3 separate regions of the Homo sapiens genome follow, and all the other regions are linked to region 3. The links come from fine-mapping of genetic effects on gene expression. A gene starts in region 3. Each other region holds a variant in brackets. All regions are shown on one strand. Distances are between the middles of the regions.

Region 1 (8,174 bases), 28 kb before region 3:
GCAGATGATCCCGGCCTGGTGATGGCCCTCTTTTGGGCTGAGACTCCTCACGCGGAAGATGATGGAGGTGGATGTTGTGAGTCCTCTGGTCCTCCAGCACTTCAATCCAGCCTCCCACGGCAAGCCAGTTCTCGGCAACTGTGTGCCTGGGGTTCCACTCCCAGCACCTGCTTCTGGATGGCCTGGGGGATCCACCTGGGTGCCCCTCCACTCCGGGTCCCAGGGGAGACTGACACCCACCCAGGCAACCACCTGCTTGTTACAGAGCCCTGCAGGAGGCAGCTCACCACCCACGAGGAGGGACTTAGGCAGCGGACTTGCTGAGGGGTAAGGGTCTGCCCCATGATGCCTCACAGCTCCACCTTCTGGGAGCCACCCACGTGTGGGCAGCCTCAGGGGACTCCAGCTCCAGGAGCAAGATCGGGTTGTGGATGGAGGAAGGGTAAGTGAGTCACTGGGCACTTCCGAAGGCCCAGCCTAAACGATGTCCGGCCCGGCCCAGAGGAGATCTGGTCTCCAGTGGGCATGGCCTGCAGGACCGTGAGGGCTGATGTGTCTGGCATAGCTGAGGGCTGAGTCAAGGGACAGGGTGTTTGCTTTCCTGAGAGGACTTCTCCGGAGTTGGGGCATCTCCAGCCTTGCAGCTTCTCCTGTCTCTGCCAAGGGAAAGGTGGTGGGCCAGTCTCTGAGCTCTGTTCAAATGTCCGTCCCTCCCTGGGTGCTCCCTCAGCTGCAACCCACTCCACGCTCCATGCCTTTTCACCACTTGTCCCCAGCCCTCCCCAGGATGCCTCCTTTAATCCAGTGAGCTGGCTGCTACCAGTCAGGGCACAAGTCACTCCCAAGCAGTTCAGTCCCTAGGGGAAGGAAGGGCCAGCTCACACATCTTGAGTGCCTGCTGTGTGCCAGGCAGGCCCGCGTGGCACACTTTGCGTTATTATTGCGTTTCTTTCTCACAGCAGAGCCTTGTGAGGCAAATATTATCACACTAATTTCACAAAGGAGGAAGTCAAAGCTGGCCCTGCAGTATGAAGACTCAAGCCCAGACTTGCTGGCTCCTGCCTGCATCTCCCTCCACCTGGGTCTCCTGTCTCCCTACCTGCGGAAAGCTCACACTCTGAATCATTGTGCATGGCTCTTACCCCGCCCACCCCATCCTTGCGGCTGCTCACCTCCTGCATCACCTGTGCCCACTCAACAGCACACATGCCCACAAGCTCACATGCACCAAGATGGGCGCACTGGGTGCACGGGTGCACATGCATATTCCAGTCCTTACTGCTGCTTATCAGCTGTGTGACCTTGAGCAAGTCACTTAACCTCTCTGAGCCTCGGTTTTCTCATCTCACAGGGGTTGTTATGAGAATTAAATAAGATACTGAGTGTAACATTTCTAGTACCTTCCCTGGGCATAGTGCTCAATAAAGATTATCTACTTTTTAAACTTTAGCTATTTTTATTTCATCATTATTGTATATGTGCATCTTTGTACACTTTTTACACATGTAACAAGAGACATGCAGTAGACACAGAGGCCCGGGGATTACCACACACACCTACTGCCCATGCAGGAACCCACAATAAACCAGCCAGCCACCTAGTATACTGGGTGCCCATATGCTCATGCCAGGCTCTACTGAAGATGGGAGTTGGGGTTACCTGTGGTAGGGATACCTGTGTATAGGAGAAGACGGGGCCCTGGCCTTGGGGTCCACCCAAGCTGCCCGGGAAATGAGTTTTGTGCTCAAAGTGTGATCTGCGGGCCAATCTGGGACCTTGTTAGAATCTTGAAGAATCTCATACCTGACCCCAGATCTTCTTCTGAATCATGATCTGTTTTGGTTTGTTTTTTTTTTTTTTTTTTTGAAACAGAGTCTTGCTCTGTCGCCCAGGCTGGAGTGAGTGCAGTGGCGCAATCTCAGCTCACTGCAAGTTCTGCCTCCCAGGTTCATGCCATTCTCCTGTCTCCTAGGACAATAGGCACCCACCACCACGCCTGGCTATTTTTTTTTTTTTTTAGTAGAGATGGGGTTTCACCGTGTTAGCCAGGATGGTCTTGATCTCCTGACCTCGTGATCCACCCACATCGGCTTCCCAAAGTGCTGGGATTACAGGTGTGAGCCACTGCGCCCCGCCCCGATTTTGTTTTGTTTTGTTTTTAGAGATGGGGTCTCGCTCTGTCAGCGACAGGCTCCAGTGCAGTAGTACAATCATACTCAATAGCACACTGCAGCCTTGAACTCCCAGGATCAAGCAATGCTTCTGCCTCAGCCTCCCAAGTAGCTGGGACTATAGGCACATGACGCCACATCCAGCTAATTTTTTAAAAAGTTTTTTGTAGAGATGGGGTGGGGTCTTGTTATGTTACCAGGACTGATCTCAAAGTCCTGGCCTCAAGTGATTCTCCCTCCTTGGCATCCCAAAGTGCTCGGATTATAGGCATGAGGTACCACACTCAGCCAGGATCTGCATTTTAAATAAGATTCTCAGAGCACTAAGGCAGAGCAGAGGAAAGTGGGTGGAGCTGCATGCCTGGGCAGGATGAGGCTGACTTTGGGCCTGTCCCAGGTGTCTCCAATCCACACCTCTATCAATCAGGCTAACACACCTCCTGGCTCCTCCTCTGCTCTTGGGAGTTGATGCTAAGGTGTGAGGTTATCCAGTTCAGCCTTGGAAGGACAGGCTGGCCCCCTCAATCCTGTTCTAGGAGAACAAAAATAGTGAAGTCTCTCCTTGGTTCCTCTCAGGGCTCTGAAGGGCTTGGGGCTGGGAGCCACATAGGATCCAAGAAACTAGCAGGGGGTGCCTCCTGCCCATCGATCCCCCTTCTGAACCATGTTCATCCTAGCTTGTGAATCTCCCCTCCCAGCCTCCGGGTAGGTCACTGCCAAAACTCTGGCTGACCTCTTCCATCTTGAGTGGGGTGTGGGCTCAGTCCCTTGGGGCCATGGGAGCCTGAAGCCTGGGCCAGATCCCCCCTCCCTATCCCTGTTGGGGCTAATTTTAGGGCTGCTTTGACAGCTGCCTCAGCTCAGCCTGGGTCAGTTCCCAGCCACTCACTGTTGGGGTCAGTTAGGGTCACCTAGGAGTGGGCCAGGCCAGCCCCACCTTTGGCTGCAAAAGATGAAACTAGAATCTTTGTCCCCTGTCCGCCCTCCCCACTGCCTGGAGAGTCCCACTGAGCTGACCTCCACGTCCCATGCCCTGTATGTGAAACCGCAGAGGAGCCCAGGATTTAGAACAGCCCATGGAGATCAAGACTGAGTATTGGTGCCTCCATGCCTGGAGGATGCAGACAGGTGAGGCCCCTTCTCAGCGGCCCTCTCTGATGCCAACCCAACACATATTTCTGAACTCAGTTACTGTGCAAGGCTGTCAGAGATTAGGAGCAGATGACACCTGGGATACTTTCTGTTTTTTGAGATGAGTCTCGCTTTGTCACCGAGGCTGGAGTGCAATGGCACAATTTCGGTTCACTGCAATCTCCGCCTTCCAGGTTCAAGCAATTCTCCCTGCCTCAGCCTCCCAAGTAGCTGGGATTACAGGCACCCACCATCACAACTGGCTAATTTTGTATTTTTATTAATTTTGTAATTTTGTATTTTTGGTAGAGATGGGTTTTCGCCATGTTGGCCAGGCTGGTCTGACCTCAGGTGATCTGCCCGCCTCAGCCTCCCAAAGTGCTGGGATTACAGGTGTGAGCCACCGTGCCCAGCCACACCTGGGATACTTTCTAGAGGGAGGATTTTAGCTTCTGAGAACAAAGGGATGGAGTCCTTCCTCTGTCACCAACGCTCTGGTCCTTGGTTTCCTCCCCTCGGAAAGGGTGTGGTGATACCTGCTCACAGACTAGCTGGGGGTACAGAGGAGGAGAAAAGGGCCGGAAAGCGTGCTGGGAACTCTGGAGTCTGCAGTGCCCACAGGGCCGCCACTCGGCTGGGGCCTAGGTTCTCTCCCATGAGAACCTAGAGGTTGAGCAGCTACCACAGTCTTC[G/A]CCCCAGCCTGCCCCCAGCCAGTAATGTTGCAGAAGAAAAGAGGAACAGATCTTGAAGCTGACGTGGGCGAAAGGGAAGGGAAATGCAAGCAGGGGCCACGGAGGGAAGCTATGGGTCTCCTTCCCCCACCTGCAGCCTTTGCTGCCTCTGTTACTACCTTCTGTCTTTCCAAATCCTCCCCTCATCTCCAGCTCCTGCTTCCTCCCTGACCCTAGGGGGCTAAATAAGATGGGACACTGAGCACCCTGTGGGGAGGTGAGCTGTCTGGTGGGCTTTGTTTAATTTTCCAGAGCCCCCTCTCTACATATAACCAAGGAACTTTCTAAAGACAGGGCTGGGCTTCAGTCCTCCAGGGGCAGCCCTGTGAACTGGGCTCAGAAAACCTCAGATTTGAACCCTCAACCCCATATCTGTCTGTGTTACCCTGAGCCAGGTGGGCCTCCCTCTGAATCCAGGTGCCTCATCCTCACACTGGCCCCATGAGGCCTTTGCAAGCTTCTGCCTGGTTCCTGGTTCTCATGGTGCCCCGGCCTTGTGTGTGAATGAGTGTGTGTGTGCACACTGGACTTTGCTGCACATGGTAGCCCACAATCAATATTGAATAGCCCACCTCAAATCCTTTTTGAAAGGCTGAGTACCTGAATAAATAGATAAATGTTGACTGAGTCTAAAAACACACATGCAGCCTGAGAAAAGCCTTGTTTATCCAGCCTCCCTAAATAAGGAGTCAATTCCCAGAGCGGACTCTCCAGATGATTCAGGATGGAGGAACCTAAAGATGTGGAAGAATAGAGGCCTCCTAGGTGGAGGGAACATCGTGAGCCACAGCTGAGAGCTGGAGGATACTTGGCTGCAAGTCGAACAGCCACATGAGATGAGCTGATAAGGCTGGCAGGGTCCAGAGCCTGGAGGGCCTCGAATGCCAGGCCAAGGAGCCAGACCTTATCCAGAGGGCAGTGGGAACCATGGAAGGGTTTTGAGCAGGGGAGTGACAAGGCTGGGTGTGTGGCCAGCAGGGTCCCTCTCTGGTTGCTGCATGAAGCATGGACTGAAGGCAGACAGCAGTGTCAAAGGGCCCTCTGCTTTTGAGGTTCAGGAGGAAAAGATGAAGGATGAAGTTGGGCAGTTCAGCGGAAGGTGAGAGGTGGACAGTCCCCAGGATAGCACAGAGGGGTGGCCAGGATTTAGTTAAGGATGGGAGGAGGGCAGGCAGAAAATGAGAGGAGGCTTGGTGGCTTCTGGGTTCCTGGCCCAGGTGACCGGCTGGTTGGTGATGCTCTTGCTGAGGTTGTGACAGGAAGAGCAGGTCTGGGGAAAGATAAAGAGTTCATCAGCTTTGGACATGTCAGGGGAGCAGGCGTCCCAAAGGAGGATTGATTAGAGGGCTGGAGCCAGGTAAATGTGGACAGATTTTCCCTGAATGACATTTTACTGGATGACTTTAAAGTATCCCAAGTATCCTGGGGACAGTCTTTGGCACCAACTGCCTATGGTCCCCAAGACAGATAGGACCAGGACTTGGGTCCCAGAGAAGGGTCAGCAAAGGGTCTGACTAGGGTGAAGGGGAGGGTCTAAGATCCTTGGCTCAGGAGTACCCCCAGGGTAATGCAGGAGTGGCTGGCACAGAGGTTTAGAGGTAGATAAGGGGTAGGAAAAAGCCATGGGTGGGCTGAGCTGGCAAGCCTCAGAGACCAGTCAGCCCAGAACCATCATTGTACAGACAGACAGAGCCAGGCCCGGCAAGGCCTAGGGATCTGGCAGGTCACAAGTCAAGGCAGACAGGTCATCAGCTTCTGGCTCAGTGCTGTACCCTCAGCCCGACTGGCTGGGAGGGGTCAGCTCCGTGTGGGCCTGGGATTGAGCTCCTGGGCCACGTCTAGGTGCTGTGGGCTTGTGTGGTTCGGGTGGAAGCACTGGGGCAGGCAGATGAGAGCCCCACCCTGAGCAGCACCCTAAACCCACTGTCTGTCAGTCTGCCCCAACCCTGTGCTTTTACTTTCTCAGTCCCAGGACCCAGGCTGGGCTGTAATCAGAGGAGGGAACTGGAACCTGGACCGGGGGAACACAAAGCTCTGCACACAGCCAGTCTCCTGGCAGATGCTGAGATGCTCATGGGTGGGTGGGGGACTGTGGCATCAGGGGCCATGTTCCACACAAGGTGAAATGCAGTAAGGGCAATTTCCACAAAGCTTGTTGAGCCAGGTACTGTTTTATGATCTTGAAACAGTGAACAGGATTTATGTTCTAACTAGACATTGACAATAAGCAAACTAATACATAACATAACAATGGAAAGATGAGAGGAAGAAACAGAGCCCAGAGGGATGGGCACCTTCAGTGGGGAGCGGGGAATGGCCACTTGACAGAAGACCCCTGCAGGCCTGATGGGCTGAGTGATTTTAATTAAATCTATGTCCCTACCCCCGACCCATGTACCCCCACCCCGCCTGCCACCAGGCACTCCACCTTCTCCTCAGCTCTAGCTGCACCACTGGGAGTTCCTATTTTTTTTTTTTTTTTTTTTTTTTTTGAGACAGAGTCTCACTCTGTCACCCAGGCTAAAGTGCAGTGGTGCGAACTTGGCTCACTGCAACCTCCACCTCCCGAGTTCAAGCAATTCTCCTGCCTCAGCCTCCCAAGTAGCTGGGATTACAGGCTCCCGTCACCACACCCAGATAACTTTTGTATTTTTAGTAGAGACGGGGTTTCACCATGTTGGCCAGGCTCGTCTTGAACTCCTGACCCCAAGTGATCTGCCCGCTTCTGCCTCCCAAGGTGCTGGGATTACAGGTGTGAGCCACTGCACCCAGCCGCACCATTGGGAGTTTCTGAGGGCTGCCCTTGACTGGACCATTACCAGGGCCTGAGGAGGACTGTGGGGAAATGAGCCTCTCACAAGGTCTAGTCCCTCCCACAAAGTCCTGCCCAAGAGCCACCCCAACCTGCCCACTTGGCTCCTCCAACCTGGGAGCCAGGTAAGAGCTGAGGAGCCCCAGGGCCTTGGCACTGAGTCAGATGTAGCCTGGGAGGTGGAGGTGACTCACTTGGGGGTGTCAAGATCCAGGAAACCACAGCCCAGGGTCAGGGCAGAAACCTGGAGACTCCCTGCCTTGCCTTGCCCCAGAATGATGAATAGGAGGGCCCTGGCCTTTCCTAAGAAGCCCCCAGCCAAGGGTCCTCCTGCTGTCATGAAGGCCCAAGTTCCAGTCAAGTTGTTGAGAGGTGCCCAAGGACCTGCCAGTGCCTGCTTCCTCTGGGCCTCGGCCTCCTAGTCCACTTATAGTGGGGAGCAATGGGGCTAGATAAGCTTCAGTGTTCCTAGCAGCTCTGAATTTCTGTTTCGTTGAGTATGTTGCAGGAGGCCCACAACCTCTGATGGTTCCTGGGGGCTCAGGGCAGGGGTGAATGACAGATGCTGAAAAGCGGGGGTCAAGGGAGGGTTTGCAAGGTTTAGCAAATGTCAATACAGGATATGTTGTTAAATTTGAATTTCAGATTAGCAATGAATAACTTTTTAGTATAAGCACATGTCCCAAATATCCGTTATGTTAAAGAATTTTTCACTGTTTATCAGAAATTCAAATTTGACTGGGCGTCTTGTACTTTCTCCGGCCATGCTAGGTGGGAAAGGTAATTGGAGCTGGGACTTCATCAGAGGAAGGTCTTAGACTCAGACAACTGGAGCTCTCACCACCTCCCTTGCTGCCCTCAGGGTCCCTTATCCATGAACTTCTTGATTTGTTGGAAGGTAGGGGGATGAGGGAGTGAGAACCCTGGGGTTAGGGGAAACTAAGAGCTATGTAGAGAGGCAGAGAGACCCCAAGACCCCAAGAGGCAGCACCGGAACTCTTCCTGGCCTGCACTCAGCTAACCTCGCCACCTCTCTTCCCCAGAACTCCTGCAAAGCTCAACCTCATTCCTACTGCCATACCCTTGCTTGTTCCAGCCCTGCCTCTTTCCATCCTATGCAAACTTTACCCACAGCCTCTGCCAGGAGCCCTTTCTTGGCTATCCTTTAGCGTTGTGACTTCCTCCTCTGGGTTCCCAGAGTGCTGTCAGTCACCCTCCTCCTCATGGAGCTGTTCAATCAATGGAGCACCCTCTCTGGAGGAGGCTTTGGAGCAGACTCTGGGCAGTGATTAGGACAGTGGAGCCGACAGTGATCGGGACAGGCACAGC
Region 2 (8,174 bases), 25 kb after region 3:
AGCCCTGGGAAGTAGATGCTATGATCCTATTTAGCAGATGAGGAAACAGGAGAAGGGCGTGAGAAGTGAGGACTTGTTCCAGGTTATCCAGGCTGTCAGGGTGAGTCAGAGTGAGTCCAGGTTCACCTGATGGCCAGAATCATGCCCTTTATAGTGCCCCACGACACTCACAGCCCTGCAGGGCAGAAGGGTCTATAAGTGGCCCCTCGCATGATTCAAGATGACAGAGGCAGTGTAGCAAGGATGTGAGAACACAGATGCTCCACCCAGACCACCTCAGTGTCAATATTGTCCCCACTTTCCTGGCTGGGGTCTCTTGGGCAAGTTACCTAATCTTGCAGCACCTCAGTTTTCCCATTTCTAAAGTGTGCTGCTACCTTCCATGCAGGGCGTTGAGGGGCTTCCCTACGTTATTACGCACAAAGTCCTCCTCACAGTGCCTGGTGTGTGGTCAGCATTTATATGCCTGGCACCAGGCCGGGGGCTATGGAGGCAAATCAGCTGGGCCCTGCCCTCACAGAGTTGACATCACTTAGTACGTAACCACATTGGGATACATGTTTTGAAGGAGAGGACAGTGTGTCTGGCCAGTGAGCAACAGTGGGCCATACGTCTCCAGGGAACCCCCGTGGGGTGTGGGAGGAGGGAAGCAGGTCTGTCCTGGGGGAATGTGTGGGACCACCTCTGCCCTGCTTGGCAGTAGGTGGATTTCAGGACCATGGGCCTGTGCTGTTTACAGAACCTTGTCCAGGTGCCCAGCTGTGGGAGGGCAGCATGGAGAGGAGGAAGAGGGGGCCCCTAGTAGCAAGCTTCAGAAACTTGCCACTTCAGGCTAGAGAGCTCGCACCCTCCCACGGCAGCAGGGTAGCCATTTCTCCCTGACTGGGGTGTCCACCATGGTGCTCTGCAGCCACCTCTCACTTCATTAAGAGTCCACAGATCTAGGAGCAGAGGACTGGTCTGGAGCTGGGCAAGGGCAGGCAGCAAATGGGGAGTTTTTGCTGTGTGACCTGAGGTCACTTGCCTGCCTTCTCTGGACTGCACTGTAGGGCCTGGAGACCTGTTCCCCTGTTCCAATTTCCCCACCTCAGTGAAGGCACAACCAACAGCTGCTCCCCGGGCATTTCCAAGACCCTCCAGGCCCCCAGCTCTGAGGACTAGGGTGGAGGCAGTGTTTCTCCCCAGCATCAAGTGACCAGAGAAGTGAAGTGACCCCACTGCCGCCACACAGAGCCACACAGTGCGATGTCTGGAGCTCCTGCCTCCTGCAAGGTGGAGGGTGGGGCTTGGCCAGGAGTGACCAGACTACAGAGTGAGGGGTGTGCTTGTGGGGGTGAAGGGTTGGGGTGAGAACTGAGCCCGAGTCGAACTCATCCTCCTCTGCCCTGATGCACTGTGCAACTTGGGGGAGTCACTGTCCCTCTCTGGGCCTCGCTTTCCCCATCTTCGATAGGACTTGGCTCTGCCTGGCCACTCCTCCTCCAATGGGGGAATTCCTGGGCTTGCCTCTGTCTTGGCTCCAGCTCAGGTGTCAGTCTCAGCCCTGTCCCAGCCAGGAACAATGGGCCAGGCAGGGCCAGTCACCCCCTGTCCCTGGGGGCTCCACCCACGGCCCTGGACTATTTTCAGCCCTTGCAGATGGAGTCAGAAGAGGATTTTCCACTCCCAGTACAATGACTGCCCTGGACCATTGTCCAGCAGTGACGCGGGGGACCTGCCTGCCCCAAAATATCTCCTGCCCCTAGTTTCCAAGCCTCTTTGCCCTGCTCCTCACCTCCTGGCCCTGCTCCTTACCTCCCCACCCTGATGTCATTTCCTGGGGCTCTTAACTCCTGAAGGCCATTGTGAAACATCACGTGAGACTCCTGGGAGACACAACCAGTTGGAATGAGTTTTCCCTCCTGGCAGGGACCCCAGGGATTGTTTGGCTGCTTAGTGGGACTGGTGGCCCAGAGAGGGCTGTGCCTTACCCAGTCACACAGCAGTCAGTGTGAAGCTTAGGTGTAAGCCCAGGGCTCTTTGGCTGCTCCCACTGCCTCAGCCAACTTCATTAGCTCCAGTCTGTGGCTCCTGGACTGGAGCTACAGTGGTGAGAGCTCACCACTGAGCTTCCTGGGATGGGCACCTGGGATAGCAGCCCAAGTGGTGTGGGTGGAGAGGTGCAGCTCATGCTCTGACCTTGGAGTGAGCCCAGTGCAGGGGCCTGACCTTAAACCCTTTCTCCCCACTGAGTCCCATTTTTACCAAATGTGGCTGTTAGGAACTGAATGTTTGTGTCCCCCGCCCCACAAATCCATATGTCAAAATCCCAACTGCCAAGGTGATGGTATTAGAAGGTGGGGCCTTTGGGAAGTAACCAGGTCCTAAGGGTGCAGCCCTCATGAATGGGTTTAGTGCCCTTACAGAATGGACCCCAGAGAGCTCCTCACCCTCTTTCCACCATGTGAGGATATAATGAGAAGTTGGCAGTCTGCAACCTGGAAGAGGTCCCTCACCAGATCCCAACCATGCTGGCACCCCGATCTTAGACTTCCAGTCTTCAGAATGGTGAGAAATAAATGTCTCTTGTTTCTAATCCACCCAGTCGGTGGCATTTTGTTATAGCAGCCCACGCTGACTGTGACTGAACTCAGGGTGACAGAGCAGCAGCTCTGGGGCAAAGGGGAGGGTGGGGGCCACAGGGCAGCTGATGCAGGAGCAGGGCTCTGGCACAGTTCAGCCATCACCAATTCTGGGACTGCAAATTCAGTTTCTTCATCTGGAAAATTGAACTGGTAATACCAATACCTCTTTTCCCGGTTTACTAGACAGAGACAATGCAGTGAGGCACAAACATGCAACTGTTTGATTTTCCTCCCACCCATGCTCCCTGCTCAGTGACGTGTGATTTTCCTTTCCCATCCATAAACTGCGCATTTGGCAAACTCCAAACTTTTGAGTCACTTTTGGGTAACAAAGTCAGGTTTAAGATTTCCATCGCCTGCTTAATTGAATGCTCACCTGTCCTCTTCCCCCATGCTGTGAGGACCTTCATCACTCCTCTTCTGGGTCCCTCTCTCCTCTAGGTGTTGGGGCAGGGTGGGGAGGAAAGGGACCAATGTGTCTTTCCTGGTGATGCTACAGCCCTCTCTTGCTGACCTTGCTTCCTGGGCCATCAGTGCCCCCTGCACAGAACTCTCCAAACATCAGTCCACACCTTTGTAAAAACAGTCTCTCCGCTAAGCTATCCCAAAATGACCTGATTAGAGTGTGCAACGTCTTTCCTGCTGGGACTCTGACTGATACCCTGGTCTCCCTGAGTGATTTTCCTGCACACCCTGCTGGGGATGTGGAAGCCTGTCCCCCTCCCACCCCACACCCCACACTTGGCTGAGATCTCACAGTGGCAAAGATGTCTTTGAATCCATGGTGCCCAGGGTTCAGCGTGTAGAGTGAGGTGGGGTGTGTAGAGAGCTGGGGCAAGGAACCCTGAGAAGATGTCTTACCCCAGTTGTTTCCAGGTTTCTTTAGAAAGCGGGCTATTTTACCCCATGTGTCCTCAGATTTATGTCCTGGAACCAAATTCCAAATCAGCAGCCACATGAAAAGTCCCCTCCTCTCTGGCGTGGAATTAAACTGTTAGACCTGCCTTTGTGACCAAAGCAATTGTAAAACGTGGGGGAGGAAATTAAAAGCCTGCCACCTTAGTCCACACAGTGTGTGCTGTCTCTGTGTGTGTGCACGTGTGTTTATGTGTGTGTTGAATGATCACATGTTCCAGGGAGGATGGTGAGGGGCGAGGGGCAGTCCTGGCAGGTACCAAGTGGACACTCAGAGACAGAAGGGCTGCAGGTGGGCAGCCAGGCCAGAGGGGGGCAACAAGGGGCTGCCAGGAGTCAGACTAAACCCCGGAAGTGGAAGTGGAATGGCAGGAAGAGATGGGAATGGAGAGAGGGTCCAGCTGCCAGCTCTGTGGCACCCCCTCTCCTTCCCTCCCTCCCACTCTAACTCCCTTTCCCTCCCCACTCCCCATCACCCTCCCCTTTTGCTCCCTGTCCCCAGAATCCTTGGGAGCAAAGGGAGGCGGACAGGGACAGTCCACTCTGTGCTCTGCCCTGGCTGTTTAGTCTACGAAGGGCCCCAGGTTGGTTGGTGCTGCTCTGCTTCCCCCTGGTGGCCAAAGCTGGCAGCAGTGGCAGGAAACGGGGGCTGGGATCCAGACCTTCGCCTATGGGGTGATAAGAAAATGATCCGGCTGCAGCCAGGCTGTTGAGTGTGAGGGTCC[G/A]GGGGGAGAGCTGACAATTGAAACAGAGAACACAATTTGCATACAGTGACTTGCCAACATGCCCTGACTTGCCAACAAGGTGACGGTGCCTGGCCCAAACCATGATGTCCGTCTCCTGCACCCCAGCCAGGGGTAGAGATCATTCCCTGCTGAGCAATCCCTTTTCCTGTGGAAGACCACTCTTCACAGGGTCCTGCGCCTCCCCAGCTCAGACTCAGGGACACAGCACATCTGCCTAGGGCAGCCGTGGAAGGACATGGAAGGGTGTAACCATGCTCTTTCCAAAGAATGGGCACCCCTAACTCTCTCTTCTACCCCACTCCGGTAACCCCATCCTCACCAGAGACCCCTGCCCTCCGCACGCCCCTAGAAGTCCTTGTCTTCTCACAGGACAGCCTTCAAAACTGCACTCCATGCCCCGGAGAAGTGTGACTAGCACAGCCGGTTCTCCCAGGAACTCCATCTGGGAAGAAGTTGGGGTTCATCCACCACACCTGAGATGCCTGTAATTTGGATCCCACCAGCATGTCCGTAGGTAAGATGTGTCTGACTCCTGTGGAAGTCATGTGGAAAGGGAGGCCTGAGTTCGGGGTCCTTGTGTGGATCCAGAAGCAGAGGTAAGATGGGAAGCCTCAGCCAGCCTCCTAAGCCGTCCTCTCAGATCTCTGCACACCTCTCACCCACAAGCTTTTACTCCACATAAACCCAGATGCCCTCATTCACAGCACAGAAAGCACACAAATCCTGGAGTCAGAGGGACTTGCGTTTGAATCCCAGCTCTGCCACTCATCAATCAGGCGACCTTGGGTACCTGTTTTCTCATCATAAACAAAGGGGGTAACTGGCCGGGCATGGCAGCTCACACCTGTAATCCCAGCACTTTGGGAGATCGAGGCGGGTGGATCACTTGAGCTCAGGAGTTTGAGACCAGCCTGGCCAACATGGTGAAACCCCATCTCTACTAAAATACAAAAATTAGCTGGGAATGGTGGCACGTGCCTGTAATCCCAGCTACCTGGGAGGCTGAGGCAGGAGAATTCCTTGAACCCGGGAGGCAGGAGGCGGAGGTTGCAGTGAGCCGAGATTGTGCCACTGTACTGCAGCCTGGGCAACAGAGCGAGACTCCATCTCAAATTAAAAAAAAAAAAGTGGGGGGGGATGGTAACCATACTCACATCATAGTTTATTTATGCTGTTTCTCCTTGCTAGAATGAAAGTTCCCAAAAGGCAGGGATCTGTTTTGGTCACTGCTTTATCCTCCGTGCCCATCAGTGCCCGGCACATTCCTTTCCTTTGCAAAGGAAATAAATTAATTATTTTACAAGTTTCACAATGGCCCTTTGAGGCAGGAACCTTATTATCACCCACTCATTCATTCATTTATTCAACAAATATTTAGTAAGTACCTACTATGTGCCAGGTACTGCTCTGTGTAATGTCCGTAAATCATCAGTGAATTAAAAAAACAAAGACAGCCAGGTGTGGTGGCTCACGCCTGTAATTCTAGCACTTTGGGAGGCCGAGGCAGGCAGATTGCCTGAGCTCAGGAGTTTGAGACCAGCCTGGGCAACATGGTGAAACCTCGTCTATACTAAAATACAAAAGAAATTAGCTGGGTGTGGTGGCAGGCGCCTGTAGTCCCAGCCACTCGGGAGGCTAAGGCAGAAGAATTGCTCAAACTCAGGAGGCAGAGGTTGCACTGAGCCGAGATCATGCCACTGCACTCCAGCCTGGGAGACACAGCGAGACTCTGTCTCTTTAAAAAAAAAAAAAAAAAAAAAAAAAGACAAAGACGATGCCCTTGAGCTCACATTCTAGTAGGGGGAGAGAGATAATAAGCAGTGAACATAATAGAATGTAAATTATATGGTGTGTTAAAAGGTGACAAGCTCTGTAGGAGGCAAAAAACAACAGGAAGAGGGATTGTGAGGACATGAAGGTTGCAATTTTAAATAGGGTGGTTGGGTGAAAAGGAGGCATTTGGGCAAATACTTGAAGGAGGTGTGGGAGTTAGCCAAATGGAAAAGAGCTCCCAGAAAGAGGGACCAGTAAGTGCAAAGCCCTAGGGCCTGCAGCTGGGGTGGAGTGGGCCTGGAGGGGAGGAGGGGAGGCCAGAGGTCGGGGGAGATCTGGTAGGACATTGAATGAGAAGGGAAGCCATGCAAGGTCTGAGGAGGAGACAGAATCTGACTTACATTTTAGAAGGATTGGTCTGTCTGCTGTGCTGAGAATAGACCACAGTGGGGCAAGGTCAGAAGTAATGACTACAGGGAGGAGCTGTTGCAGAAATCCAGGTGAGAGCTCAGGCTGAGGACTGGGACCAGGTGGTAGCAATGGAGGTGGGGAGAAGTGGACCAATGCCAGATGTATTCTGAAGGAAGAGTGAATGGGATCCTTTATGGATTGGATGGAAGGAGGTGATAAAAGAAGAGGGGGTGCAGAGGATGCCTACAATGTTTTGTAGACAGTGACCCTGAGATCTAGAGAAGATGTAGTGTGAGGCCACACAGCTAGTCAGTGGGTGGGGGTGGAGGAGAGGAGGATGGGACCAGGGTGGCGGGAAGGTCCTCAGGTCTAGGACAGCATCTGGGAGAGGATAGGGGGAAGGACTCTGGCATAGCTGGTCACAAACCAGCCCCAGGGCAACTGAGCATTGATTTGATCAATGGCTTTTTCCTCTTCCCTTGAATTCCCCTATGATGGCCTTTTAATTGGGTCCATTTGTTCCAAGGCCGTGGGCTGAGCTGAGCAGACGCCAAATGATATGCCTATTATTAAATAGATTAGGAAATGGCCCTACATCTTGGGCGGCCAGAAAAACCAGAGTGACTGAACAGTGTCCCTGAGGAGTAACACGTGTATTGTGGAATACTGGATGTATTGCAGAATCCCTTCCAGGCACCTTGCCTTTCCTATGCTGTCCCTGCGTCTACAGAATCCTTCTGACTTCCTTGCTCACCTGAAATGTGTCTCCTCCTCCAAGATTCACTTCAAATCCCCTCCTCGGTGAAGGAGCTGAAGGAGCGCGCTAATCGCCACCCCTCCCTCAGCCTGCCTGAGCTACTGCCACAGAGAACTCACACATCTGCCTGGCAAGAGATCCAACCTGAATTGGAGGGTCTGCCCTAGGGGACACTGTCCAAGTCAGGGTTGTCCAGGGAACAGGATTACCCAAAGAACATTTAAATAACAATCCCACTTCAGTAAAAAAAAAAAAAAAGATGTCTCCATTTCCTGAGCTGGAGTCAAAAAGGGTGGCTGGGAGGCAGCAGAGAAGAGGAGTGAGTGTAAATTCCGTGTGATGGAAATGAGTGGCAATTTAAATTCGACTGGAGAAAAAGAAAACTTTCATGTCAGTATCAAACTCAGACCATTTTTAAAAATCGGTTTCTTCCATTTTAGACATTATATACTGGTTTCCTTTTGTGAAATGAGGCTTTAGTTCTCTTCCTTCTCTCATTCTCCCATTGCAATTTTTGATTAAATATTCAGTGCTTCCATTTTTATGATGTCAAAAATGTTGCTCACAGTGACATCTTAGGGCATTCTATGTTTATATTTTCTTTCTTGCATAACTTTTTGTTTTTCCTGGAATTAATAACTGCCTCACTGTACATTCCTAAGAAGGACATATTCTAAGGACAAAGAGAACTAACTCTAAAGAAATCTGAAGCAGTCTTTGTAATCATATTACAAGTACGGTTACCCCTGAACATCATGGGCTTGAACTGCATGGGTCCACATATATGCAGATTTTCTTCTGCCTCTGCCACTCCGGAGATAGCAAGACCAATCCCCACCTTCCACCTTTTCCTCAGCCTACTCAATATGAAGATGAGAGGGATGAAGAACTTTATGATGATCCACCTCCACTTAATGAGCAGTAAATATATTTTCTCTTCCTTATGTT
Region 3 (8,174 bases):
GGCTCCATCCATTTGTCTGTCCCAGCCCCCAGAGGGGCCTCTGTGGTCAGGTCTTTGTGTCTGCACAGTGGCCCTCTTTGTCCTGAGCAGCCTGTCCCCATCCCACCTCCCTCCTGCGCTTCTCTCTCTCCTGCCTGGGTCACAAAAAGCACCAGCTTCGAAGAGAGCCAGGCCAGAACTCTGATCTTGGCTTCCCCCACTGAGTCTCTGTGTGACCCTGAGCAAGTTACTTTGCTTCATGGATTTTTAGTTTTTTGGTTCTGTGAAAAAGAGCTGTTGTAAGCAATCAAACTCCTGGCAAGGAGTTTGGCCTGCCACCCGGTGCTGAGACCCAGATAACAAATCATGAACTTGGAGACTCTTACCTCATCCTCATGCTGTTCACTGGACCTCTTACCACCAGCTCCCACCTCATTCTCACCCTCACCCTTTTGGCCAGTGGCTACCATTCTCCCACTTGACAGACAAGGAAACCAAGGCCTGACGACAGGGCTGACTTTGTGGGCATGTGACCTGGACAGTAAGGGTCATGATTTGAAGTGTTAAATACTCTGCTATCACCATCTTGAAATTCTTAATTTTTTCTTATTTTTTCATTCTTTTGTTGGAAATTTTAAATTTTTGAATGAGGGGCCCACATTTTCATTCTGCTCTGGGTCCCGCAGATTAAGTAGCTGGTCCTGCTTGAGGGGAGATGGAACAGAGGCATGCCCAGGCCTGGACTAAGCTTCCTGCATCCCAGGCGGCCTCACTTGGGTGCCCGCATCCTGGCATGCTGAGAGCTAGAGTTTCCAGGCTGCGTTTGGCATCAGAGCCCTGGACCCTGCCCAGGAAACCTGAGGAGCACAGTTCTCGGCTGGCAAGGGAAGGGAGGATGGTGCAGGTCAATGCAGCAGTTCAGGGAGCAAGTAAGACAAGGCTGCTAGAGCCAGCCCAGCCCTGTGTAACTGGAGCTGCCAGTGTGGGTCCCAATGCCATGACCCAGCCATAACTCTGGGAACTCAGCAGGGCCTTCCTTCCCATCAGGCTGCAATTCTGGGGCCAGGAGACCCACCGCAGATTCACTGCTTTGGACTTTCGCTTCCCCTTTCTGAACCTGTTTCTCTACATGTCACATGAGAATAAAATAATGCCTATCTCACAGGGTTCTGGAGAATATTAAGCGAGATACCTTAAACTTAATGACTAGCACAAAGAAGGTGACCACTAAAATAGAGTTCTTACTCATTCACTCATAATATATTGTGACAAATGTTCAGGGACAGGGGTCAGGTACGGTGGCTCACGCCTGTAATCCCAGGACTTTGGGAGGCCAAGGCGGGTGGATCGCTTTAGGCCAGGAGTTCAAGAACAGCCTGGCCAACATGGTGAAACCCTGTCTCTACTAAAAATACAAAAATCAGCAGGGTGTGATGGTGCACACTTGTAATCCCAGCTACTTGGGAGGCTGAGGCAGGAGAATCACTTGAACCCAGGAGGCGGAGGTTGCAGTGAGCTGAGATCACGCCACTGCACTCCAGCATGGATGACAGAGCAGGACTCCATCTCAAAGAAAAAAAAAGAAAAATTATTCAGGGACAGTGCTAGGTGTTGGCCATTTAATTGTGAACAGAATGGAACCTGGCTCTGCTCTCAGAGAGATCCCTGTTAGAGGGGGAGACAGGCAGTGATAGCAATAACAGCATGGTAAGTGGTGGGGCACCTGGCCTGGGTCTTCGAGGACCCATGGTGGGGAGCCAGAAGCAGGGGGCACTGTGGGCAGAGGGAGCAGCAAGAGGCAACAGGAGGCTGGTCAGAGGTGAGAGGTGAGGCAGAGAGGCAGGGAGGCTGGAGTGGCAGGCTAGAGAGCTAGGCTTTATCCAGAGGATGGTGGAGCCACCAGAGAGTGTAAGGCAGGGTATGGCATCAAGGGGCAACAGAGACACCACTGTACCCTGGGAAGGGGGGATTGGAGCCTGGGCCAGGGCAGAGGCTTCATCCCCAGCATGCATTTTCAGAGCAAGTTTTCCCAGGGGCAATGAGAGAAGTTGAGAGAAGGAGGATGAAAAGGCCTGAATGAGCCAAATACCTCCTCAGGGCTGGAGAGACAGGAAGCCTCCTAATACATGGGAGAAGCTGAGGCTGGAACTTTGCCCTTCCCCTCCTGATCTGCTACTGCTAATGGAACCCTCCTCCCGCCCCCATGGTTCCATTACCCACCTCCAGGGGACCATTACTGTGCCTGGGCCTTCACCATTAGCCTGCCTTGGCTGCTTGGTTCCAGGGAGACTCCCTCGATGCTATTCCAGCCTTTCAGATGGCCTGTTGTGTGACGCTGGCTGTGTCTCAATTTCCGGTTTGATCAATGGTTTTACATTACTTCAGCCACAAAATCTTTCATGTGCTTGCAACAAATTCTTACCAGGAAATGTAAATAAATAAAAATACAAAGGCAAAGGTGCTCAAGTTGAAGTGGGATGGGAGTTCCCCAGGCAGCCCCAGGTAAGGGGGACTCTGTTGGGGGATTTGAAGCCTGCTGGGCTTGATGGCCTCTGAAACCCAGCGATGGGACTGCCTGGGGAGGATGTCAGGAGACGAAACTTCTAGGCCCTCATTGCATGGGATACTAACGCCTTGAGCCCAGACAGCTTGGGATGATGAATAAAACCATGAAAAAAGAATTTAAGGATAGGGTGCAGGGGCTCATGCCTGGAATCCCAGCACTTTGGGAGGCCGAGGCAGGAGGACTGCTTGGACTCAGCAGTTTGAGACCAGCCTGGTCAACACAGGGAGATCCCATCTCTACAAAAAATTTACAAATTAGCCCGGCATGGTGGCATGTGCCTGTATTCCCAGCTACTTGGGAGGCTGAGATGGGAGGATCCCTTGGCCCTGGGACATAGAGACTGTAGTGTGCTGTGATCATGCCACTGCACTACGGCCTGGGTGACAGAGTGAGGCCCTTTCTCAAAAAATTTAAGACAGGCCAGCAAGTGAGAGATTAGTATTACTCCCTTTTGCAAAAGAGGAAACTCAGGCTCAGAGAGGAGTCATAGGACAGGTGAGGTAAGACTGGAATCTAAACCCAAGGCTATGGGGTTCAAGGACTAGGCCCCTTCCTCTGCTCCTCAAGCCTCACTAAGTCACCTGTGTGGTAGCTGAAACGCTGTATGTCTCAGGAATGCAGTTTCCTCAGCTGTAAAGTAAGGGAATTGGGCCAGAGCAGGGGCAGAGCCCTGGGCAGGCCACCAACCAGATTTGCCCGCTGAAGGCTAAGGTCGAGCCTGGGTCCTCAACTTGGCGTCAAAGAAACTTGTTTCTCCTGGGCTAAATGGCAGTGACAGTATAAGGTTTGAAGTTTTGGAAGAGGGGAGAGAAAGAGAGGGTTGGCTGGAGTTCCAGTGCCCAAAGGGTCTTCCCCACACTGGAACCTGAAGGCCTAGGCCCTATAACTCGGGCTATGAGGATACTTAGGTCCCTGGAAGGTGCGTGGCCCAGCTTAGACAATAGGCGCAGGAGGCTAGACAAGGGGCCTTTGTGTCTCCCAAGCAAAGGCCCCAGCAGGACTGCAGAGGCGGCTCAGCCACTATGGGCTGTGTGTCCACTCTGCTACTGCTCCTGGTGGGGCTGCAGCCAGCACCCTTCCTGGCAGCCAGGCCCAGTCAGCTGATATGGAGCCCAAGAGGGCCCAAGGCCCCGAAGGCCCGGGGCAAGTTCCTTGGCTACAGGAAGAGGCCTCCTCTGCACTTGTCCAGCCAGCGGAGCGATTGGCTCCATTTCACAGGAAAGAAGACCCTGCCAGGGAATGGAACTGGGTCAAGGTCTCCCAGAGTCAGTGCTGAAGCCAGACAGGAACCTACACTCCTGATTCCTAGACCAGAAATGAGAGAGAGGCGGGGTGCTCATTCATTCATCCATTCACACCTTCAAGGATTGAGCACCTCCCAGGACCTCTAGGACAGCAGCAGGAAGAAGGCAGACCTGGTTCCTGCCCTCGGGAGCTCACAGTCTCCGAACGGGTCAGACATGCAGCCGGTAGCCCGACCAGGGAAGGCCATTAGAGTGGGGTTGACGACAGAGAAGAGAGGTAAAGCAGCTCAAGATAAGGGGCCAGAGTGGGGAGTTCAGGGAGCTGCTGATAAGATTAAGGCAGGGAAAGTGGGGAGCACGGGAGAGGCGGGATCCTGAGTACCCTGCTTTCCTAACCACGGTAATGGAGAGAGGCACCCCCTTCCCCCACTTTCAAGCAAGGGAGGTACGTCCTTAGCCTGGGGTTCCGAGCAGGTATCTCCCAGTAGGTCCCTTCCTGGCCAGCCGGGCTGGGGCAGGGGCGGGACAGGGGTAGGGTGGCGCGGTGGCTGGGCGCAAAGGTCCCGCAGTGGGCCACGCAGGCACCGGGCTGACCTGGCAAAACTTTGGCGTCTCTGAAAACCTCTGGTAACCAGCTCCCTTCTAGCGTGAGGGAGCCGGGAGGCCTCCTTCTGGCCCGGCAGTGAGAGCGTCGCCGCCCGACCCTCCCGTTGCAGCACCGGTACAGACACGCTGACCCCGCGGCCTTGTCGCTGGGCGGCGTCCCGGAGCGGGTGGCGCGGTGTCTACCCGGGCGGGTTGAGGGCGGTGCCAGGGTCAGTCAAAAGTCCGCCCCGCCCCCTGCCTGGCCCGGCTTCGGGGTTGGGGAACAGCGCAGGGAGGTGGGTAGCCGGGCTCCCAGGCACGTGGGTCTCTGCGGCTGCGGCGGGACCCGGGCACTGGCACCCGGGAGCGGCGGCGACGGCACCCTGAGAGGAGAAGCGCAGCGCAGTGGCGAGAGGTGGGGTGGGGCGTCTGGAGGGAACAAGGCGCTGGGAGAGGCCCGGGGAAGCGGCGGGCCAGACTGGCGCAGGTGCGGACTGGGCGCGGGGCAGGGGAGGGCGCTGTGGAGCGGCTGTCGCCCCGGGGCACAGTTGCGAGCCGGCGTGTAGCGCATAACTGGACGGCTTGAACGCGCCTGTGGGTCCGTGGTTGAACTTTGTCTCCACGGGAGCGTCGGTCTCGGTGAGTGTGGACGGGCGCCCCAGTAGTGAGGCTGTGCGCGTCAGCGTACTGGGGAGGTCTGCGTGTTAGCGGGTGAGTGTGTGCGCCCCTCGGGGCGACTGGCCAAGCCTGCGGAACTTGTCTGTGTGTGCTCCGATGTGAGCGTCCCCGTGGCGTGAGGCGGTGGCCGGTGCCCAGAGACGCGAACCCCTGGAGACCCCCTACCACTGTCCTAACCCCAGGGTCACTCTGGGTGGCCACCTACCATTGGTAATGTTGAGGGGGCAGTTGCAGGGAGTGGGCGGGGGAGGAGGGAGTGGCCAGAAAGGACAGTTAAGCCTCTGTCCCCGGGCTTTTAATCTGGCAAATGGTGCGGTAGAAAGGGTCAGTCAGGAGAAAGGCGATACCCCACCCCCCAACCCGAAGGCTGCCAGTGGCCCTCTTGGGGTCCTCCAGGAGCGCAGCCCAAGGGTTGGGGACTGCTGGAGACCAGAATTGCCAGCTCGGGATTTGTGGGGTCCATGGCTGCTGTTCCTCTCAGCATGGCATCCCCAGCTTCCCAGGACCACAGCCTGATCTGCCTGGTTTGTTTTGGATCTAAGCTGAAATAATTATGAGTTTTGAGGATCTGGGTGGAGACCCAGGCAAGTTTATTACCTGTGGGTGGAAGTGGAAGGAAGAAGATTCTCTGAGCAGACAGGTCCACAAGAGAGCTCTGGAGACTCAGAGATCTATGTTCCAATCCTGTCTTGGCCACTGTGTGGCCTGGGCAAGCCGTCCTTTCTCTGAGCCTCAGTGGCCTCGTCTGTAAGAAGGGACTAATGATAAGGAATTTGAGGGCTGTTGAGGAGCTGATGAGTGTGTCATGTTCAGCACCAGTGTCCCCCCATGGGCAGGCTCACAGCTTGGGGATGGGAAGTCAGTCCCTGGAAGGAGCCTCCCAGAACCAGAATCCCAACTGTGCCCCTCCCTAGGGCACAAGCCTTCCACAGGACCAAGCCTGAACCCTGTAGCCTGGGACTTAAGGTATTTGATAACTGGGGCCTGCCAGCCTTTCCAGCCACCTCTCCCGCCTGACTCTTTACCTTGCAGCAGCTGCCTGGAGTCTCTCATTTCTTGCCCCTGGCCTGTTGCATATTCTACACTCCCTCTCTGATAAGCCCTCCTACTCTCACCTTCCTCAACTGGAGAACTACCCAGACTTGGGACCCAGCTCAGATGTCCTCTCCTCTGGAAAGCCTTCCTTGATCCCTACAGCTGGGTTGGAGCCTCTTCTAGGCCCCTACAGGCCTGGGGCTGACAGCCCTGGTCCCACCTGAACCGTCATGATCTATGTCTGTCTCCTCCTTTCCTCTTCCCAGGTCTAGGGGCTCCTGGAGGGCAGAAACTGGGTCTTATTATTTCTGTGTTGCCAGCACCCTGCACAGGGCTGAGCTGAACTGAGAGAGCAGCAGTGGCGCCCATCCCCTGTCTCTGGCACCAGCTTCTCCAGTAAAGGCCCGGCTGCAGGGGAGCTCCATGTCACTACAAAGAAGGGCAAACCAGAATCTGGTTATCAAAGTGGGTGGCACAGTTTGCCAGAACAGTGTGATCTGGGACACTGTAGGACCTAGAGTGCCCAGGCTAAAGACCTAGAGATTTTATCCTGAAGGCAATAGGGAGCCATGGAAATTTATGAGCAGAGGTGTTTCATGGTCAGAGCGGCATTTCAGAAAGCGCTCTCTGGCTGCAGGATGGAGAATGGATCAAGTATTGCCAAGTGCAGGGAGGTCAGGGCATTTGTGATGTCAACACTAGAACTGTCCCAGGAGTTGTTTGAACCCTAATTGAGCCCTTGCCCCTTGGCCAAACACTTTTCCCTGAGCCTTCAGATGCTCCTGCTGAGGAATTTGGGGACCTGCAATTGATCTCATCCCAGCTCTGTTCCCAGCTGGTTGAATGACCAGTTCCTGCCCTGCCAGGCTCTAAAAGGAGGCCAGAACAAGTAAGATCCTGCATGGGAGAGTATGTGTGTGGGGAGGCTCTGGCACAAAAGGCTTGTCGCTCTTTCTCCTCTTCTCCCTGCCTTGGGCTGTCTTGGAGTCTGGTCAGAGGGGTTGGGGATCCCAGTGGGCAACCCTCAGAAATGACTACCAAGCTTGGGCTGTGGAGTGAGGCTGTGACTCCTCTGTTTCTGTCTCCCTCCTGCCCTGGATGCATGGGGCTCTAAGGCTGTGGATCCCCCAAGGACCAGCTAAGAAGGTGTGAGGGTATCACCAGGGCCTCATGAGTGACCCCATGAGAGCTTTGACTTAATGGCTATAGTCTTTAGAGAGGCCATTGTCCCTCTCTAGGTGTCAGTTCTGCCATTTGTAAATTGAGAATGGTGATCCTTGCTTCTTTGAGAGCAGAGTTGCTACGAGGATTAAGATAGTGACCAGGGAAGAGCTTTATAAGCCTTAAACTGCAGTGCTCAGAGGAGGAATGTGACACTTGTAGACTTAAATCCATTTTGAAGACTATAAGAGAACATGGGTGCAATAGCAAGGGATTGTGCTTGTTATTGAAATTTGATTACTGAATGCCTTCCTCCCCCACCCCCTCTGCAGAGATGGCTTCACTAGTAACGATTTACAACAATCCATTTTGTCTTCCTATAGCCCTGTGAGGGAGGAATTGTATCTCCATTTTGCAGATCAGGAAATAGAGGCATGGATTGTATCCTGCCCAGGGTCACCAAGCTGAGGTGAAACCTGGGGCTCCAGTCCACCTGCCAGCTTAGCCCTCCCCATCTGAGACAGAGCCCTGTTAGGGTTAGGCCTGGTCCTCTGGCTTCCAGGCTGAGGGGAGTTTGAATTCTGCCCTGGGAACCTGTGTTTGGGGCTTTCTTGTGGCCAGATTACCCAACTGCTGATAAGGTAACGCCTGCCCAGACCTGCCCACGGGACCAGAGATGCCTTGTTGATCTGGTGAGGGGAGTGGGGGTTGCCCCTCATGCCTTCCACCCAAACCGCCTCTCCCCAAACTGCTTTCTGTAGGCCTGCTTGCTATACCCTCTGGGCCACACCTCCTCTTGGTTGTCCTTGGGTCCTGAGGCCTGGCCTTCCCTTATTACTGGGCCCTGATAGGAGGAGGCTGGCTGTGTGGGCCACTCTGACCTCTGTACTCATCCAGCGGCCAGTTGCAGGACTAGGCTAGGCCAT

What was found. PIP is the estimated chance that this variant, and not a neighbour inherited with it, causes the effect.
Region 1: its variant is fine-mapped to the expression of P2RY2 in whole blood (TOPMed, PIP above 0.99). The same link has a PIP of 0.9 or more in T cells and monocytes.
Region 2: its variant is fine-mapped to the expression of P2RY2 in whole blood (INTERVAL, PIP above 0.99). The same link has a PIP of 0.9 or more in monocytes after LPS.

Annotation. Positions count from the first base shown.
Region 1 is chr11:73,185,482-73,193,655 of GRCh38, forward strand. No RefSeq gene overlaps it. Among named protein-coding and RNA genes, the nearest start is that of IUR1, 6.7 kb to the left of the region's middle. The variant G/A (reference allele first, on the strand shown) is at 3,995.
Region 2 is chr11:73,238,645-73,246,818 of GRCh38, forward strand. It overlaps P2RY2 (purinergic receptor P2Y2), which reads left to right. Exons shown (of 3, transcript NM_002564.4): 3 at 1-3,783. Among named protein-coding and RNA genes, the nearest start is that of P2RY2, 24 kb to the left of the region's middle. RefSeq lists enhancers at 1,678-2,428, 3,827-4,573, 4,219-4,458. The variant G/A (reference allele first, on the strand shown) is at 4,265.
Region 3 is chr11:73,213,644-73,221,817 of GRCh38, forward strand. P2RY2 (purinergic receptor P2Y2) reads left to right here and starts at 4,638. Exons shown (of 3, transcript NM_002564.4): 1 at 4,638-4,789. LOC124902709 (a long non-coding RNA gene) reads right to left here and starts at 4,550. Exons shown (of 3, transcript XR_007062773.1): 1 at 4,384-4,550; 2 at 2,200-2,396; 3 at 1,213-1,545. RefSeq lists enhancers at 4,472-5,190, 5,191-5,909 and a silencer at 4,549-4,758.